Homo sapiens: one gene and its partner. The protein of the gene in region 1 interacts with the protein of each later gene in a pairwise test. Each region holds a gene or a part of one and is shown on either strand. Other genes may lie near its edges.

What was found. Proteins that work in one complex are often made in the same cells at the same time.
Region 2: the proteins of ITGB2 (region 1) and NOTCH2NLA interact in a two-hybrid assay, tested with the Homo sapiens proteins (4 studies listed by BioGRID and IntAct).

Annotation. Positions count from the first base shown.
Region 1 is NC_000021.9:44,917,885-44,924,778, forward strand, and holds the start of ITGB2 (integrin beta-2 isoform 1 precursor), read right to left. Parts: upstream 3,016-6,894; 5' UTR 2,937-3,015; intron 1-2,936.
Region 2 is NC_000001.11:146,218,988-146,226,021, forward strand, and holds part of NOTCH2NLA (notch homolog 2 N-terminal-like protein A), read right to left. Parts: intron 1-7,034.

The sequences.
Region 1 (6,894 bases):
CACGCAGCCCGGGGTGGGCAGGGGCCTCAGCTCAGGACAGCACCAGGGCCCTCTGTGCTTGCTCAGGGCCTGGGCTCCACACACATGGGCTCGGAATCGACAAATGCAACCACCTAATCAATGCCCCGTGTCAGTGCCAGTTTGTGCCAAGCAGAATGGGAGGGATAATTGCTGGCACCAGGTCCGGCTTGGGGTGGGTATCACCCACAGCTCCATAATTGCTAGGCGCCCACTGCAGAGCCCCTTGAGTTGGGGCTTCCCAGCGACCTGGCCTGTACCTGCTGGGCAAATGCCTGTGTCACTGACCCCTGTGGCAGCTGGCATTCTCCTCCGGGAACGGGAGCCAGCCTCCGGTGACATGGCCTCAGGCAGGACCACGGTTCTCTGACACAGGACACGAGTGCAGCAAGGGGGGCCCACACAGGACCTGTTCCATGGAATCGCCACAGGCGTCACGCTGCCCCATCCACAGAGGCAAATGTCCCACAGCCCTGGTACCTGGTGGGGCCCGGCCTGGGCCAGAGTGGACAGACCTGGGCCTGGCAGGAGCCCTGGGGAAGTGAGTTCAAGTTACACGGTTGACTATAGAGACAGCTGGAGTGCGCACAATTGGCCAGACCACCCCTCCTGTTTCACAGATGGGGAAACTGAGTCACGGGGGACCAAATAGCCTGCTCACCCCATGCCCCTTCCAGACAGGGTGCAGATAGGGCCCCTCCCATCTCCTGGATGGCCGCGGCCCCTGTGCAGAACTTCCTTCATGGGCACCTCGCTGTCTGGGGGCCTCTTCCCCAGGGAGTCTCCTGGTGGTGGCCGTGTTGCCTCAGGCTCACTGTGCACTAGGCAGGTCACGTCGATGCCGCCTGAGGGGCAGGGGTTACCACCCTGTGGTTCAGGTGAGAAGCTCCAGGCTCAGGAGTGTCCAGCTGCCTGGGCAGTGTTTGGATCTCATGCCAGCCCCTGCCAGGAGGCCCTGCTTCTCCAGCCCAGCCCACGCCCACCAGGAAATGCCCCTATTTACTCCCTTGAGGCAAAGGCCCTTGGGTGGCTAAGCGTCCCCTCTCCCAGCACTCGGAGCTGAGCGTCCCCTCTCCCAGCACTCGGAGCTGAGCATTCCCCTCTCCCAGCACTCGGAGGCACCTGCAGTTGCTCAGCTGTTCATTGAGTGCTGGGAGTGGAAACTCATACGCTGAGCGGCAGTGACGCTGCGGAGCTGACAAACCCCACAGCCCGCCCGGTCACCTGCTTCACCGAGGGCCACAGCCCCCCCGGGGTCAGGTGGCCACAGGGGTCCTGGCCATGTGGGACATCTGTTCTGTGGCCCTGCTCAGGATGGCACCCGGCGGGGACTGGCCCTGGGGCCGAGGCATGGGCTCAGCCGCCGCCCTGCAGGGACGTAGCCAGGGACCTCTTCCCAGCAGAGGGACTCCCCCACTCATCCCCAGAATACTGAGGGGCACGCTGGGTGCCAGGCTGGCAGGGACCCTGGGGATTCTGCTGTGAGCTGGATGGGGAAGGAGTTCCTTCCTAAAATGTGGAGTCTGGAGGCCACTCTTGGTAAAGTGCTGGCCCCCGGGGATTCTGCAGTGAGCTGGGCATGGATTCTGCAGTGAGCTGGGCTTCACTCATGGTGAAACGCTGGGGTGACGGCAGACAGCCCAGAGCTTCTAGCAGCTCATTTCTGTGAAGCCTCCAGAATCCGGCCTCAGCCCCCAAACCCGCAGGCGTTGCGCCACCGTCACGGGGAAGGCGAGTGACAGCGAGTGTCCCCTATGCCCCCACAGCTCGCTCCCAGGCTGAGCTCTCCGGCCATCCCCCCCCTTCCCCATTGCAGCCATGCCACCCCTCCTTCTCCCCACCCAGGAACTGACAGAGGAGAGGGGCCCCGGATGGACAGGGACAGCAGGGCAGAATCCCAGCTCCCAGATCCAGGGGAGGGGGGATTGGGTGTGGGGACGGTGGTGCAAGGGGTGGTGCCAGGGGTGGAGGATGCATGGGGAGGGCTGGCCCCAAGAGTGCAGTGTTGGGGGAAGGGGGCCAGGTGGGCCTGGGACCCAGGGGCGTGGCTTCAATCCCCCTCCCACCAGGACCTTGGGAATGGCCTCCAGGAGCCTGTTGTGGGGAGGCCAGGGTCACCAGCTGAACCAACTCGACCAGAATCGCACAGCGGTGCCCGCTCCCCTACAGCAAGACGTCACCCAGGGGTCCCCACGGAGGAGGCAGGGAAGCTCGAGGGTCCCAGAGGAGCATGGAGCATGTGCCACACCACACCACACTACATTACACATGTGCACCATACATGTACATACAACAGACTCCCCACATCACATGCGCACACTCGCACACCATACATGCACACACACACACCACACTACGCTATGCCACACACGTGCACCATACATGCACACCATGCCACACTACACACACGACACTACACACCACGAACCACACCACACCATATCACACACCACACACTGCGAGTCGATCTGGAGATGGAATCGCTGTAGCCAGGCGGGGCAGCATGCAGACAGGAGGGCCTAACACAGGCAGGCGCAGCAGGTTCACAGAGGAGGCCCCGGGAACCTGCCTCCTGCCCAGCCCGGAGCACCAGGACCCCCCAGCCGTCCCCCTAGGGGCTTGTGGGCCCAGCCTCTTCCTGGCCTTGCCGGCCTCACAGCCCCTTGTCCTCCCATGCCGGCCCCATCCTCAGCCGCAAGCGCTCCCAGCACACCATGTGGCTCTGCTCTTGGTGGCAGGCACTTCCCCTTGCCGGGTCTCAAAGGGGACCCTGGAGCAGACGGTCTGGAGACCCCTTCCTGCCAGACACCCCTGGGCCGGGGCTATAAGCAGGGCCACCAGGGTCACTCCAGGCTGGGGCAGGAGAGTGCTTCCCTCCAAAAATCACCGTGGACATAGCGGGGCCTCTGCACACTCACCCTCGGTGTGCTGGAGTCCTCGGCGGTGCTCCTGGCTGGGCGTGGGGGCTTTGCTACCAGTCTGCCCTGGGTCACGTCTAGAAACCTCAGCTGGAGGCGCGGGTCGTAAAGTCCTGACACTTCCTGTTCCTCTCAGCTCCTCCTTGGAGGAAGTGGTGGGTTGCACCACCGTGGCCCTTCACCCCTGCCCCTCTCCGCTCTACAGCAGCTCTGATGTCAGAGAGCGGCCCCTTGAGACAGGTGGGACATGTCATTTCTCACATGAGGTCCCGGCGAGAAGGACCTGCTTCCATCAGATTCACACTTGGGAGAGGGGCCCGGCCTCCAGGAGCGCCAGGCAGAAAGGGCACCCATTAGGAAGAAGAACACAGAGGCCATGGGAGTGAAAAGTTTGATGCTGGAAAGCAACAGTAGCACATTCTGCTACAGAGCGGAATGAAAAACCCTGGGGAGCAAATTCCTGAGCCAGAGAATGGAGCGGAGGAACCAGCCAAGGAGGATAAAGAGGTGGGAACAGGCAAGAAAACCTGGGTGCGTGCACGCATTGACATCCACCTGCATGTGAGGGCGGGAGGGGACAGAACAGGGACAGCGAGGAGGAGACACTCAGGTCACAGGAGGAAGGCTGCGGATCTGGGCGGGGACGTGGATTGCGAGGCCACTGAACACCCCAGGGATGGATGGATGAGGTCCTGTTAACTAGGGACATTAGGAGGATACCACAGAACACGAAAGGGAAAATACTACAGGCTCAGAGAGAGAGAGAAGGGAGAGGAGGAGGAGGAGGAAGAGGAGGGAAAGAGATTATACCTAGAAAAAAAACCCAAATCAGACATCTTCAGAGCAAGGACTCAGACACATTACTACCCTAAACTCTGTTTTATTTATTTATTTATTTTTATGTTTTCAGTTTTTTTTGAGACAGAGTTTTGCTTTTGTCACCCAGGCTGGAGTGCAGTGGCGTGATCTCAGCTCACTGCAACCTCTGCCTCCCGGGTTCAAGCAATTCTCCTGCCTCAGCCTCCCAAGTAGCTGGGATTACAGGCACATGTACCACCACGCCTGGGTAATTTTTGTATTCTTAGTAGAGACAGGGTTTCACTATGTTGACCAGGCTGGTCTTGAACTCCTGGCTTCAAGTGATCCATCCACCTCTGCCTTCCAAAGTGCTGGGATTACTGGCGTGAGCCATGGCTCCCGGCTCCTAAACTCTGTTTTAAAGATGTCTTGCAGAAATAGACATGAAGAAATCCATGAGAAATACAAGAGCAGATGATACAAAGTTGGGCAAAGAAATAAGTAAAAATTATGATGTCATAACCTGTTGATTTAAAAAATAGTGGTAAGAATATTAACGCTGTGAAACAAAACGCCTAGAGGACTGGGTTGGGAGGGGCCAGGGAGCACATTGCCGTTCCATCCTATCTGGGGAGGAATATAGATGCTTGTCAGTGGGCATTTTGATAGAAAATATCTAAGTATATATGCTAACAATTCAAGAGTCTCCTTAAGAATAAAAATAGCATGTATATACCTGAAAAAAAATATGACAAATCTTTATTTTGGGCATGGTGGCTCAAACTTGTAATCCCAGCACTTTGGGAGGCCGAGGTGGGAGGATCACTTGAGCCCAGGAGTTCGAGACCAGCCTAGGCAACATTTGGAGACCCAGACCCTCATCTCTACAAAAAAATTTTCTAAGAATTCGCCAGGCATGGTAGCACGCGATATGGTCCAGGCTACTTGGGAGGCTGAGGTGGGAGAATTGCTTGAGCCCAAGAGGTTGAGGCTACGGTGAACCATGCTTACACCACTGCACTCCAGTCTGGGTAACTGAGAAAAAAAAAAAAAAAAAAAGGCAAATCCTTTAAAAGAAAAAAGTAAGGGAAAATAGAACAAACAAGAAAGGTAAATAAAAACCAAACAATAAAACATTGGGAATAATTTCAAACCCATCAGGAATCACAGCACCTGTGAATGGGTTACATTTTCTTGTTTTAAATCAACAAGGTCTTGCGTTGGGTTTTAGAAATAAAGAGACAAAACAAGTTCCAATGAAATGTTCTCTGTCAAGGGTATCTTCTCATTACAGACTTAGCCTAGAAAATAATGAAGAAGGACAGAAAGAGAATACCATTCTACTACACCCGCTGATGACTTAAAGTAAGCAATGACCCTCGCTGCGAACGTCACGGACGCAGCAGACGTTATGCACACACCTTTAATGAATTAGTCTTGATGAAATAACAATAGAAATCAAGAAAAATAGAAAGAACAAATGTTACTATTGAGCCTGAATCAGGTCGAACTTTTTAGATCTACAAAGAAGCATCAGGAGGGTGTGTTAGATGACATCGTAGGGATGCAATTAGCAAAATCCAGGCTGAAGAAACCCTCACAAGGCAAACAGCACAGTACAAGAGGAGAGACGAAGGGAGAGAGACCCTTTAGATTAAGAGATTTAATCTCTTAATAGAACCAATTGCAATGCATGGACCATATTTTAAAATCATTGTTAATTGTTTTAAGTGTGACAATGGTTTGTGGTTATGTTAAAAAGTCCCCATCTTTTAGAGTTACATGTTGAAATATTTGCAGATGGTGCAGTATAATGTTTCAGATTTATTTCCCAATAAAGAGGGGTGGGTTGGGTTGGGGGAGAGTCGGGAGAGGTGTTGATACAACAAGATCACCTGTGAGTTGATTATTTTTGAAGCCACTGTTGGGGACATGGGGCTTCACTAATCTATTCTCTCTACTTCTGTAGATGTGTGAAATTTTTTGTAGTAAGATTAAAAAAACATTTCAAGGAAGTGTAAAGTTATTATTTCGCGGGTATAAAGTTCCCGTTTTGCAAGATGAAATGGTTTTGGAGAAGTTGGTGGTGATGGTTGCACAGTACTAAGTGTCCTTAATGCCACGGAAATGCATAACTTCAAATGGTTAAAATGGTGAATTTATGTTATGTATATTTTATCACAATTAAAAAGTAAAAAGTGTAAGAAAGGCTCTCTATCAGATAAACTGTTAAAAGAGAACACTGAAGGCTGAAAATAAAGAAACGGAAAATACACGTATGTGCTAGAAAATACTAACGAAGATATCGTGTAACATCAAAAAGATAGAAATCAAAGCAAAATGCATCAAATGGACAAAGGAAGATGTAGCCAATGAGAGTCAGAATCCACAGACAGTTCAGCAGCCATAATCCTTTGTGTGCCGAACTTCAAAATATATAAAACAAAGACTGACAAATATATAAGCAAACTGACACAGCCCCAAACAGCAAATATCTCTAACAGATCTCTCTCAGAAATAAACACATCAGGCCAGTCGCGGTGGCTCACACCTGCAATCCCAGCACTTTGGGAGGCTGATGTGAGCGGATCACCTGAGGTTAGGAGTTCAAGACCAGCCTGGCCAACATGGCAAAACCCTGTCTCTACTAAAAATACAAAAATTAGCTGGGCATGGTGGCGCATGCCTGTAATCCCAGCTACTTGGGAGGCTGAGGCAGGAGAATCACTCAAACCTAGGAGGCAGAGGTTGCAGTGAGCCGAGATTGTGCCACTGCATTCCAGCCTGGGTGATGAGAAGGAAACTCTTACTCAAAAACAAAAACAACAACAAACAAACAAGAAAAAATCAAATAGAAATGCAAATTTGGCAGGTAGAGAATTTGAGGAACGTAACCATTCGTCTCCAACTTAAACACAATTATGTTACAAAGTGGGACAATGATAAACACATAATTACTAGACCACAAGGGAAATAACCACATATTCTAAAGCACAAAGACCATAAGGAGGCCAAATTCACGGACACAATTGAATGAAATTAGATGCTGTCCAAAGGATGGCATGAAAGAAAAAAAACAGCACTCCTGAAAAGTGGACCCAAATATAGCCTAGATCACATACATCCATGGTGCCACACTCACGCTACGGGGTAATGAATA
Region 2 (7,034 bases), on another chromosome or scaffold:
GGAAAGGGGGAGAGAATCTTAGTCATCTTGTTCTCTGACCAAGCTAACTGGCTAGACCCACTGTACTGGCATTTATCCATTAGGTCAAAGTGTCAGAATTAGCAGTGCATGGTAGACATAGCATTAGTCCTGCCTTTCAGGGATGTTAAATGCTTCAAAAATCTTGGCTATCTAGAAAAGGAGGACAGTAGCCGATTACGTCACCCACCCAAAATCATGTATTTGACTCCAGAATACACTGCTTTTCTCCAACATATTTTTTTATTAAGTATTAAAGTAAATGTCAATTTCCTAGACATATACAGCTGAAAGCATGCTGATTTACGATACAGTCAGATAAGAACTTTCAAGTAGCTACAGAAAATAGCAGTTAACAAATGAATTAACCAATATCATTAGAAACCAAAGGATTAAAAAAAATTAACCTATGAAATGAACAATTTTTATATCAACATTGGTAGCAATTTGATGTTATGTTATATACTGCTAATTATTTCCATACATATTGTGACATATTTAAGACAAAAGACTAACACCCTTAATATTTAAAGAGCTTTTTCAAACCAGTAAGAAAATAATTAAATGAGTAAAAGACACAATTTACAAAAGAAGTAGGAAAAAAGGCAATACAAACGCCACTGATGATATGAAAAAACATTCAATATCACTGTAATGAGAGAGGCATATTAAGATTAAGTAATATTTACCACTTATCAAATGGTAAAGATTTTTAAAAATAAAACCTAGTGTTGACAATAGTATATTATGTGTGTGTGCATATATATATATGTAGATCTGTTCATAAACTAAAAAAAAAAAATATATATATATATATAAATAAATCAACAGCTTTTCTAAATCTAAGGGTAAAAAAACCAAAGACGTATACCAAAAAATTAATGGCAGCATGATTGTGGACATTTTATTTATGCTTTTCTAGATTCTTCAAACATCCTTAACTACTTTTTCAAACATAATTACTTTTTATATTACAAAAATAAAAAAATCTTGTAAAGGTGCCAGAGAAAATCAGCAAAGTATAAATATGAGTTAATTATCTGTAAACATAACGAATAATTCTGTTGCTACGTAAACCTACCTTAAACTGTTTCAATGTTTGCTTTTAGTTACAACTATTTTCCTTAACTCTCTTAGAAAGAATATGTCAGAGAAGCCACTACATATTACTTACTTTAAATAGTAACATAATGCCAAAGACTTGCATGAATCTCAGGATACGGTCTTTTACCTAAAATTCCTCATGAAGATTAGAATGCACTTTAAATGTTGTAATAAAGTAAATGCCCTTAATGTTTCTAACTAAAGAAGATCTAGCAAATAAATAAACCCATATTCACAGCAAATAAAAATATAATAAAATAATCGAAATACACATGTCCTCAAACTTCAATGTGTCTTGACAGCGTCTGAACCAAAGCATGTGTAAGGAGAGAATTAAACAAAAATGTCTTTGCTACTTACCACATTTACCATTTAGAGAAGTTAATATATCAGCACTATCTAGTTTTGTGATTATTCATACTTAGAAACTCAACAGAATAGATTAGTGAGTAAACAGTATTCAATTATTCTTATTTGAATGTTGGTTAGGTATACCAATAGAACAACCTCTCCCTGCTAGGTACCCGTTAAAATAGATTATTGAAAATATTTGAGGCTTAAAAACTTCCAGAATCTTCTCACACAAAAAAAGATGAAAATAAAAAGAGATGAAAAAGAAGCAAACAACAATTTTAAAACGTGCCTGCCTCAGAACAAGGCAGTTTATTTTAGAATGTAACCACAGCTTCTTGTACAACACCTTATTCATCAAGCACAACTGTATTTTAAAGGAATGCTATTTGTTAAAAAGACAACATATTTAGGATAAGGTATCTAACTCCAACCACAATATTATCATCATGTTTTCCTTACTTCACAAAATACACACATACATTCATCATATGAATAAACATATATAATAAAGGTGAGAGAGTTACTCTTAACCCAGAAACAGGTTCTGCAACACCCATAGATCCAACCTGTCGTTATGCAACAATGAGTCCATCTTGGCAAGATGTTTGGCTGATGTATTCAAATAACCCAGAGTTCTGCCAGCTGCCAGTATCCTGCAGAAGGAACTGACTCAGAGACCAGAAACTGCCCTAGGCAAGCCTCCAGGGAAAGGTGCTTCAGTCCAATGGGAAGAAAAACCCAGCCCCTCACTGCCTGGCCAGAGGACCCGGGGTACCATGGCTGGAGCGACGTAGCTGGCTGGAAATGCGAGAGGGGCAAGGGACACTAAGGTGAACCCCCAAGAGCTTGTTCAATCATACCTAGTAAAGGCCAAACTATTGGGGAGCTAGTAGAACAGGGTTTTGCCAAGACAAGTACAAAAGGGTGAGGGAGATATTAGTATGATTAATCAATGCCACCTGAGGCAGCAACTCTGGGTGTGTCCACACCACACTTCAGTCACTGCCTGGCTGTGACGAGAAGTTCCTTCAGCCACTGCCACTGAGAACTGCATCTTCCAAGGAAGATATTTCCACCATAACTTGTCCTAGTTCAGGCTTGGCATTCGGGACTAAGAACACAGCACTCTCTCTTGCCGCAAACCCACTAACAGACATAATAGACACCACAACATGTGCCAAATTTATATTTACACCCTCACCAGACAAAGGGGTTTTTGTCTTTTCCCCAAGCCAAGTTCTAATACTTCTAAATTACAACACAGAAAGAGGAAAATGGCAGACAGCTCACGACAGCAGACAAGCCCAGCAAGGGTGAGCTGGAGGTCGCCTTTCCCTGGTGGTATTAAGACCTGAAGTTTACTCCCAAGACCCTATAGCTCTGAGTCACCCTGACTGCAGGAAACTGCTTTCAGAGAGCATAGATAAATGATAAAATAACTGTATTTCATATTCCTAATTGTGTGCTTATCTGTCTTGTCTCCATGATGATGTCAGCTCCTTGGGAGCAGGACCATATTTTCTACTTGGTCAATGATTCCCACACATCTAGAAGAGTAGAATACCCTGTACTTGCTACCACATGATGCCAAGGGAAGCACACAAATTAAGTGTGACAACACACCACAATGCTCCCCCAATACACCACTAAGACAGCAGAGCTACAAAGATAGCAAATGTTAGTGCCAAGGGCTAGTGATCCTACCAGTGAATTACATGGAAACCTATGTATTTACATACACAAATTAATACAATAATTCCTTTGCTTTTCTTATTCCAAGCTATGGCTTTATCATCCCCCTTTCTTGGCTTTACTCTCCTTTTTAAGACCACAATGTATGTTCTGCCATACAGATAATATTCTCCTCAAAAAAGAGAGACAGGAGAAAAAACAGATCTACGGCAAACCTCCTACCACTACCAGTGATGCAGTTTGTCCCGTCTCAAGCCTATGAGCATATCCTTTCAGATCTGAAGCCACTTCCTTCTTCCTATCAAGGACAGTATTATCAAGTGTCTTTGTGAGAGGAGCAATCCTGTGCCCCTTCTTGCAGATTGTTTTGTTCTGCTCAAGAAGCCCTAGATTCCTCCTTTATTTTCCTTTCCTTATTTCATTTGCTGCAGCAGCCCAGAAACCCCAAAAGCAGGACCACCAGAAATGAGTGACCTTTATATCTCTCCACACTAACACATCTGAGGGAAACTGCCGACACCAAATATGTGTTCATGAGCTAATGAAGCAGAAATCCTCAAAGGAAGCACCATTTGCAACGGCTGAGGACAGAATTCTTTAGTGGACACCAAAAAGGCTGTGGAACTCCTATGCATTCTAACATCTCAGGTAACATTCTAATGGAGGAATAAGGAGGCTTACAACAAAGTCATACAACACAAACAGAAGTCCGAAAATGCTGGATTTCGCAAATTTCTTTTAAGACAAAACAAACAACTTTACTAACCTTATACCATAGCAGCTTTCTTCTCTGTACTAAGTGAGGCCAGCAAGTAGGAGGCATTTCCAAGGGGGAAAAATGACCACAGGATCTAGCCAAAGCAACCTGTCTCTAATACTCTCAAAAAACAAACAAACAAAAACAAACACTTTGATTTCCCAGATTCACTCTGCAGTGATTCTAAAACTTTCCTAATGTAAGAATCACCTGGCTATTTCTTGAACACACAAATTCCCAGATGACATTCCAGATGCACTGAATCAGAATCTCCATGAGAACACCTGAGCTATTCTTATCATAAGAGAGGTTAGGGAAACACTGCTTGATAAATGTTATTCTCCCACCAGTGCCCACCTGTGCAGGGAGGTATGAAACAAGTAGGGCTAAGATGCTTTACCTGAGCAATCACCCCAGACATGCTCCTCACTGGGTTTGACTCCTTTTATGGAGAGCTGGGTGTCAGCTCAGTAAAGTCTACAGACAAGCATCTCTTTGGGTCCCTATCACCTGCACAGGTCTCAGGACTCTGAGACAAATTTCTGAGTAGATGTCAATGAGGACAAGTCATGAGGAGATGGATTACAGCTGAATATAAGAAGATCTTTCTAAGAATTAGAGCTGGCCAAAGATGGAATAAACTGCTGTGGAGAGCTGTCTACCACAAGAGATGTTCAAGAAGAGAGAAAATATGGTACCTCTTGACTAGAATGTTGTAAACATCAGATCCAGCATGGGATGGACAGAAAGACTAGATGAATTTTAAAGTTCCCGCCAATGCATAAGTCAACAAAGAGGAAAATTTCAGCCACTCCTTAATTAATTAAAAGAGATAGCAAAAAAAGTCTGTGGGTGGGGTCAGCTTTCAACTGATCCTATCTCTTCAAAGGAAAAAAGAACATAGAAACACACTCCAACTCACCATCAGCCTCTCCTATAGAATGTTCTAAAGGTGGGAAAGCAGGAGTCACAGATGCTGTGACTAAGACCTGCCGCTCAGTTGACTCTGAATTTGGGGCACATGCCAGACAAGTTCTGTAGTACAGAGAAGAAATGTGTGTAGCACAGACCTGGCCCTCAAGGATCAAAATCATGTGGCAGAGACAACTCAACACCATGTGATTCTCTCAAATATTTATTCATCATATTTCACCTTTAGTTTTTGTCAGTAGGGTGTTCAGGGGACTCTCTTGGTTCAAAAAAAAAAAAGCAAATATACTTTACTAAATGTACATATTCTCTCAATCCAGTACAAGTTTGCAATATCCAACTCAATGAAAAAAATCTCAAAAAAAATTATCAAAATAAATATAAACTTAGTTAACTCTAATTTTAAAAATAGTATTCCAAAAATGACTAGTCCCCAAAATGATGAAATTACAATAAGGTGTGGCTATTCTGGACAAAATAACAGAAATTGCTGGCCTAGTAATACAGTAATACAGGAAGCAGTGGAAGCAAACTTGAATGAGAGGCAGGGGGTGGATGGCAGTGCCTTTGAAGTGAGATTCCAAAGTCAAAGTGACCTTTATAAATTGCAGAAGTGATCAGAAAAAGAAAGAAAGAAACCCCACACACAAAGAAATTCAAAATTACAAGTTTAAATGAAACATCTGGGGAAGGGAAAAATTTGGTTTTTCCCCAAATGTAAGGTAAGCATGACTCCTGCAAATACTATTTTTAAAATGTCTAGGAGTACCACAGTTGTCCAAAATAAGAAAGTGGCTAAAAATAATTGTTCGACTGAACAAGTATTTATTGTGTGCCTATTAGATACCAAGGCATCATGCCAGGTACAGGGGTAGGGTATGGGCATTAGAATAAACACATAAATGAAAATACACGATTCCTTCCTCATGTACGCATTAACAATAAGCACTTGAGGATGTTATAAGAGTTTTTGTGCACATAAGCGCATTTGTACACGAGATGGAAGCAATGTGGACAGTGAATGAGGCACTGGACACCAGAAGAAAGGAATTCTAGTCTCAACTCTAATTGGCTCTGTGACCATGAACAATGAACATCAGAAAATGGAGGACCAAAACAGTGGCTCTCCTACAAGGTCACCAAACCAATTAATAACAGACCTGGAGAAGAATTCTGGTCTTCTGGCTCCTAGTTCAGTGATCTGTCCAAAATACTACACATATGGTAGACTGACAAAGAAAGAAAAGAAGACCTTTTGGTTTCAAGTCATTTGCAGAGAAAGGGGGGGAAACAAAAACAGGAAAATCAGGAAAGGGTGGAAGGAAAATTAATAGTTCAAATTTAGGCATTCGAACTGAGACATCAAGAAAGGAAGCATGTAACTATGGACTGTGAACACAATATAAAGAAAATGATGTAAAATTTCTTATATCCTTATTCAAATCACGCCTTGCAGTTTTTTACTCTAAAATCATTGCAGACGTATATAGATAAAGGGTCAAAAAACAACATGTATGAATGACATTTAAGGAAAAAGAGATAACAGAAGAAAAGGGAAAAGGAGAGGTAGAGAATTTATTATATCATCTAAATATATGAAGCCCTTCTAAAGGGTCAATGCAGACATACTGCACCCAGATAAACAGAAGAAATGACATTATATTCTATATCTCTTACGTTAGCAATTTTAAAATTCTTGAGTCAGAAGTGTTAAACACTGGAATGACTAAGGTTACATTTGTTATGGAAATTTCTTAAATTTAGAAAGACCTCATACACACACCTGAAGGTAAAAAAAAAATGTACTTAATCAGTGGGTTGCAACCAAGTTACTTGTCAGAATCACCTGTAAACCTTGAAAAAATATGGATTCTCAAACTTACCTTATCAGAATCCCTGGGTGCTGAGTCCAAGATCCACCCCAACAGATTTTGATGTAGCCAGGACACAGAGTTTTTTTCTACCATAATGGGAGAGGTAGGGAGGAGGATCACTAGGAATGGCAACACAGAGTGGGAACTAGATCAATGCAAATTTTGTGGGCAAAATAGAATTTCTGTGGGTGTGATATTTTTAAAATGTATTGTAAGGCTGCTCTGAACCATCCAAGCATATCCCACTGAATTTAAACATTCTCTAAAGGTCCTGAAGTCAGCAACTACAATCCAGGTGAACCAAA